Linked DNA regions of Homo sapiens. The protein of the gene in region 2 interacts with the protein of the main gene of each other region in a pairwise test. Each region holds a gene or a part of one and is shown on either strand. Other genes may lie near its edges.

Region 1 (3,500 bases), on a different chromosome or scaffold from region 2:
CAGATAACATTTTAATTATTAACCGTGATGCCATGTTTCAATTAGGCAAGACTTCTTTCACGCATGAACTGACTTCCACCTTCAAGCTCAGGAGCAGCCTGCACTCCAGGTAAATTGATCCATTTTTAAAAAACAGGAGCCCCACTTAAAAAACAAACAAACATCAAAACTTATTTCCTATTCACATTAAAGTCAACAGCACTGAGCGTGGTGGTGCGCACCTGTAATCCTGGCTACTTGGGAGACTGAGGTGGAAGGACTGCTTGAACCTAGGAGGTTGGAGACCACACTGGGCAACATAGTAAAACCCGTCTCTAAAAATCAATGGGGTCTAGCAAGCGCGCTGACACGGAGCGCTCCTTACGCACGGGGCCTGGGCTGAGGAGGATGCGCCGAGACGCGCCCTGTGCTGGCTCCATTTTGTGTCTAGAGTCTATTCAGGGAGCGAGATGCTGGTATCCTTAAGGCCTTGGCCGCTATGTGGGGATCCCCAGGGTGCACCCTTTTCCACCCGCAGGGGTCAGGGCTGGCCGGGCCACTTGGTTGGTCCGCAGCATTCCGGCGTGCACCTGCTGGCCCCGGGCAAGGCAGAGATGCGCTGAGGGCATGTGCCCCGCACACCTGGTACTGACGGGTCAGGAGGGCCGGGTTGTGGGGCGGGACTGCTGCGGGCACCATCGTGGGGAGGGAACGAGGTCATGGGGTGGGGGTGATTGTGCAGGAATGGCCTTTGTTTTTCCATGGTCTGGCTTATGCAGCCATCCATCTGGCAAATTATGGCCCCTGGGCTTGTCTGGAAGGTTGAAACTGGGTAAAGATCAAACATCTCGTTACAGAGGTGTCTTGAACATCAATCACAGTCTTTCATGACCTAGGATAGGGACAGTGCTAGGACAGAGGCTTCTCGACTCCGGATTTCTGCAGACTGCGCTGGAGGAAGTCATGCTGCACAGCCTTGTGCTGACACTGGGAACAGGAATAATCATGAAACCACAGATACTTCAAAAGAAAGTTTTGGAGAACAAGATGTTTGCGTTCCCACTGCAGATGCGGCAAGGATCATGAAGAATGTCCCTCAGAGGGACACACTACACGGGACGCCAAAGAATGTGTTCCAGAGTGTGTGGGTTCATCAGCTTCACGGCACCTGAAGCAAGTGAAAGATGCCAGGGAGAGTGCGGAGACAGTCAGTGGGGAGGGTGCTCTCTTTGCCCTGTTCACCTGAGGCTTTGAGAGTTATGCAGAAGCGCTGGGGTGGTGCCTTCAGGCACTCAGAGAGGCTAGGAGACAGGGGAGCAGGCCCCAGTCCACCAGAGACACAGAGGGACCTAGGGAAGCTGTGGAAGAGGCGCTTACTGAGCAGTTATTAGCTGGCTTCAGGACTGCAGAAAGGCAGCAGCAAAATGTTATGGTTTACACAGCGGCACACTGGCAGGTTTCTCATGTCCAGCAAGCTCAGTTTTCACGAGCTGAAGAAATGGTGCAATGGGGTGTGGAGGGAAGAGAAAGGGGCTAGAACAGACGCGCTAGAAGAAAATGATTGGTGACAGACGGTCTCTGTGTATTGCACTAGCTGTAATGTGGCTTCCTGGTGCTCGGACAACTGAGGTGTTAATTCTAAGAATCTTTTTCATGAATGATTTTAAAGAAATTTTTGGATTTTAACGGTATTAAGAAATTTTGGTGGGGTATGAGAAAAAAGTGGGACTTAAAAAAATTCTGTGGTTGGCTGATGCCACTTATGCTAAGAAGAAAAATGACTTTGAGGTTTTATCACATAAAGACATTCTCACAATGATGTCGGCTACCTGGAACTGTTAATAATTATGACATTATACTGCATTTGAGTGAACAGATTATTTTAGAGATGATATATGTTGAAAAATTATTTTACCCCTAAAAAGAGACGGAAATAATTTCATAGAGAAATTAAAAACTGTTTAAATTCAATCTTTTAACTAAGGTTTTGAGTAAATATAGTTTCATGGAGCCTCATCCCAATAGATTTCTCAAAGTCTTTTTATTTATTCATTCACCAACAAAATTAACTTACGCCTTCCATATCCACTGAAGGCCTCTTATGTACTCAACACTGGCTTGGTCCTGGGTTTGGAAAGACCGAACACACAGCTGTTTTTTTCTGGCTGGTTTTTGCTGATGGAGGCCCCCCGCCCTGTGGTGTAATTTCCCGAGCATCTACCCTGATAACCTATGGAATGAGAACCGGATTTAAGCAAATATAATCTAGATTTCAGTCCTGATTCTATCATTTCCTTTCTAGACATGTGACTGGGTGAATTACTTTACACCTCTGAGCCTCAATTCTGTCATCTATAAAACACAGGTAAGAGTTGGCTCATAGAGTTGGTAGGATCAGCAAACTGAAGAGTATAAGAGGCCTTTATTAATCTTTATTAAGTTACCAAACAAAAGTGGGATCATTATTAACAAGCTGGTTTTCCACGAGTGGAAGCTCCTGTCCTCACTGGCCACAGTCCCGTGCATAAATGCAGCTCCTGGGGCCAGGAATGGCTCCTGAGCTTCCTGAAGATCATCAGAAACATGTAAGAAAAAGAATTTATCTCCAAGATAAATTTTATTTCAAATTTTTAGCTGCATGCTAAGAAAATGCTTAACTGCTGGAGAAAAAAAGAATTTTCCAAAATTTTGTAGAAAACAAGTTAGCAGGGAATGTGCTTTATGAGGAATTAGTACAAAGACCTTTAATCTTGGCTAAAGAGTACCAATGATAACTGCGTTATTAAGCTGGAAAGCTGTTGGTCAAAACTACCGTATTTTGAAAGAGTTATGAAAGGGTCTGATTGCCCAGTTTGTTTCACTAGGGCCAGGCAGGTGTGAGACAGCCGGTCAGTCACTGCTGTCCACTGTCCAGGGGACATGACGGAACACCCAGACACTAGGCTTTCCATGCATTGTTAGATTGCTAACTCCTTATGACAGCCCTCCAAGATCTTTTCCCCTGTTTTATAGAGCCGCTCGGAGAAATTTAGTACCATGCCCAAGATGACACAGCCTTCACAGTTCTGTCTGACTTTGAAACTCAATTCTGACCCTTGGAGGCCAGAGAAGATGTGTCTGCCAAGGACAATCACACTAACTCAAGGAGCCTAAAAACCAAATTCCCTGATTTCTGTTGGGCTGGTCATCTGCATATAGTGGCCTTTTTTATGGGCATGGCCACACAGGAGATCGAATTATAGATCAGAGAGTTGAATTCTGTGCAAAGCATTAGATTCATTCTATTTCCACTCAGCAATGGATTTGTGTTGCATATGCTTCCCTGTTCCAGGATAGTTCTGCATGGAGACGTTGGGCCTGCCTAGCATCAGGAAGACATGGAGAATCAAGGCCTCCTGCCTTTCCCACTGCCATGTTCTCCCCTCCCATGCAGATCCCACTATTCTACTAACTTTAAAACACCCATGTGCCAGGCGCGGTGGCTCACACCTGTAATCCCAGCACTTTGGGAGGCTGAGGTG
Region 2 (3,500 bases):
CAGTAAAGTATCACTTCTATATGACACATATAAAGATACAGATATAACAGGCATGCAGAATAAAAGCCATGTTCAAAAGATACTTTATTTGCCTGTTTTCAAAAACAATTTTTCTCCCTTACTTTAGATAATTAGTAAAAGTTACAGGACACAACAAAAGGTGAAGGAGAGAGCCATCTTTCAAGGCCTTTTCAAAAGAGAAAGAGGGCCGGGTGCAGTGACTCACACCTGATTTTATTGTCTCAACTCTTTTATCTTTTTCTTCTCCTTTTAAAAAAATTCCTTCACTGAAGCTGGGTGCGGTGGCTCACACCTGTAATCCTAGCACTTTGGGAGGCTGTGGTGGGAGGATCGCTTGAGCTCAGGAGTTCGAGACCAGCCTGGGCAACACAGTGAGACCTCCTCTCCACAAATGATTTTTAAAAATTAGCTGGGCATGTATGTTGGCACGTGCCTGTACTCCCATCTGCTTGACAGGCTCAGGTGGGAGGATGGCTTAAGTGCAGCAGGTTGAGGCTGTAGTGAACTGCGACCATGCCACTGCACTGTAGCGTGGGTAAGAGAACAAGACCCTGTCTCCCCCCTCAATTTTTAAAATTAATTTAAAAAATAAATAAATAAAATTACTTCAGTGAGAAGGAAGAAATCTCAACTCTTATTGCCTGGTTAGTCCTGGGCAAGTCCAATCCAGGGAGGGCCTAGCTGGTGTCTCAAATTAATAGGTCTATGATTAGCAGCCCCCCACGTATTGGTGGGATACTACAGGAAACACACACATAAACACCATCCTTAACTGTCTATGAAAACAAGAGTCTTTCGCTATCTTAGCCTATTTTTGAAAGTAAATATTTTGGGGGAATGTGAGGGTTATATCATCTGGTATTCTGAACCTAGAAAATTACCTCTGAGACTTTCCATGAAGAAGGCTTATTGGCTTAAGTCGCTAAGTAAATTGGCTTTATTTAAAAAACATTTTAGACCAGGCACAGTGGCTTATACCTGTAATCCCAGCACTTTGGGAGGCCGAGGCTGGTGGATCACCTGAGATTGGGAGCTTGAGAACAGCCTGACCAACATGGAAAAACCCCATGTCTACTAAAAATACAAAATTAGCTGGGCATGGTGGCACATGCCTGTAATCCCAGCTACTCAGGAGGCTGAGGTTGTGGTGAGCCGAGACTGAGCCATTGCACTCCAGCCTAGGCAACAAGAGCAAAACTCCATCTCAAAAAAAAAAAAAAAAAAAACTTTATTTATTTATTTAAATAAAACATTGATTGATTGATTGATTGGAGATGGAGTCTCACTCTGTCACCTAGGCTGGGGTGCGGTGGCACTATCTCAGCTCACTGCAACCTCTGCCTCCCAGTTCAAGCAATTCTCCTGCCTCAACCTCCCAGGTAGCTGGGATTGCAGGCACACACCACCACACCCGGCTAATATTTTGTATGTTAGTAGAGACGGGGTTTCACTGTATTGCCCAGGCTGGTCTCGAACTCCTGAGTTCAGGCAATCCACACGCCTTGGCCTCCCAAAGTGCTAGGATTACAGCCACCGTACCTGGCCTGAGGAAAAAAAAAAAAAACAGCTATCTTTCTAGTACCCATAAAAAGATACAGAAAGAACACAGCCTTAGAAACTCCCTTGGCAAGATTTTTAAAAGACAGAAATCAGATTCAAAACACAAGTTAAAATTCTTTGTACACTCAAACTGCTTGTTTTGGATCCCCTGAAGGGCCTGCAAAAAGGCACTATGATCTGTGGTCTAGTGGCTGGCAATAAACTGGTTAGCTGCTGCAGCGTGGGTTCGATTCCTTGTAAGGTAACAGTCCATTGCAGATGCAAGTCTTTTAACTCAGAGGAAAAAAAAGAAACACTTATAAAAATTAGTTTGAGGCCAGGCACGATGGCTCACGCCTGTAATCCCAGCACTGTGGGAGGCCAAAGCGGGCGGATGGCTTGAGGCCAGAAGTTCGAGATCAGCCTAACTAACGTGGTGAAACTGTCTCCACTAAAATACAAAAATTAGCCGTGTGTGATGGCACACGCCTGTGATCCCAGCTACTCAGGAGGTTGAGGTATGAGAATCGCTTAATCTGGAGGCAGAGGTTGCAGTGAGTAGAGATCATGCTAAAGCACTCCAGCCTGGGCGATAGAGCAAGACTCTGTTTCAAAAAAAAGAAAAAGTTTTGTTTTGAATTTCCATTTGTTGACTCCTGACTTTTGGGGGTACTCATTCGTTATTGGTACCATATACACAATAAACACATGTATAGACATATACATACATATATAGACACATGTATCGATACAAAAGCCAAAGACTAGAGAGTTTAATTCAAAAGAGAGAAGAGTTTTAAACCTGACATGAACCCATTAGTGACTTTTGGGGCTCTATAAGGAAAACGAGAGGCCCCAAAAGAGAGGGTCAGTGGCACCTTTTTTTTTTTTTTTTTTTGTATTTTTAGTAGAGATGGGGTTTCACCACGTTGGCCAGGCTGATTTTAAACTTCTGACCTCAGGTAATCCACCTGCTTCAGCTTCCCAAAGTGCTGGGATTATAGGCGTGAGCCACCGCGCCCAACCAGTGGCACCTTTTTTTTGTCTTCCTCAAGGGATCTCAGGGTTGTCAGAAGTCCCATCTAGACCCCTTTAAGGGTTATCAAAGGTGGCAAAAGGAAGAAGTAGAAATACATGGAACAACCAGTTTTGGAGAAGCCAATTTGGAGAGATTTTAAGCTTCCCCAAAAGGCTAATGAAATTTTACATTTTCAAGGCAGGGTGCAGTAGTTCATGCCTATAGTCCCAGCACTTTGGGAGGCTGAGGGAAAATGTACCACTTGAGCCCAGGAGTTCAAGATCAGCCTGTGCAACATGGCGAAACCCCATCTCTACAAAAAATACAAAAATTAGCCGGGCGTGGTGGTGTGCACCTATAATCCCAGCTACTCAGAAGGCTGAGGTGGAATACTTGAGCCCGGGAGGTCAAGGTTGCAGTAAGGTGACATCTCACCATTGCACTCCAGCCTGGGCAACAGAGTGAGACCCTGTCTCAAAAAAAAAAAAAAAAAAAAAAAAGACAAAGAAAAAAGAAATTTTACATTTTTCTCAGCAAAGATCATGCCAACAAGAAAGGAAGTGAACACAAGGACTAAACATAATTTTTTTTTAAAGGGGGTTTCAGTGAACTGAAAAAATTTCCCAGGGCATGAGATCCAAAAGAGAAAAAGCAGAAAGCCTTTAAAAAATAAAAAAATTGGCCAGGCACGGTAGCTCATGCCTGTAATCCCAGCACTTTGGGAGGCCGAGGCAGCTGGATCACGAGTTCAGGAGATCGAGACCATCCTGGCCAACATGGTGAAAACCCGTCTCTACTAAAAATACAAAAAATTAGCCGGGCGTGGTGGCGTGCACCTGTAATCCCAGCTACTCAGGAGGCTGAGGCAGGAGAATCGCTTGAACCCAGGAGATGGAGGTTGCAGTGAGCCAAGATTGCACCA

What was found. Proteins that work in one complex are often made in the same cells at the same time.
Region 1: the proteins of TMX2 (region 2) and SFXN1 interact in binary tests that used the Homo sapiens proteins (3 or more experiments, as listed by UniProt).

Annotation. Positions count from the first base shown.
Region 1 is NC_000005.10:175,481,560-175,485,059, reverse strand, and holds part of SFXN1 (sideroflexin-1), read right to left. Parts: intron 1-3,500. UniProt on the Homo sapiens protein: Amino acid transporter importing serine, an essential substrate of the mitochondrial branch of the one-carbon pathway, into mitochondria.
Region 2 is NC_000011.10:57,719,093-57,722,592, reverse strand, and holds part of TMX2 (thioredoxin-related transmembrane protein 2 isoform 1 precursor), read right to left. Parts: intron 1-3,500.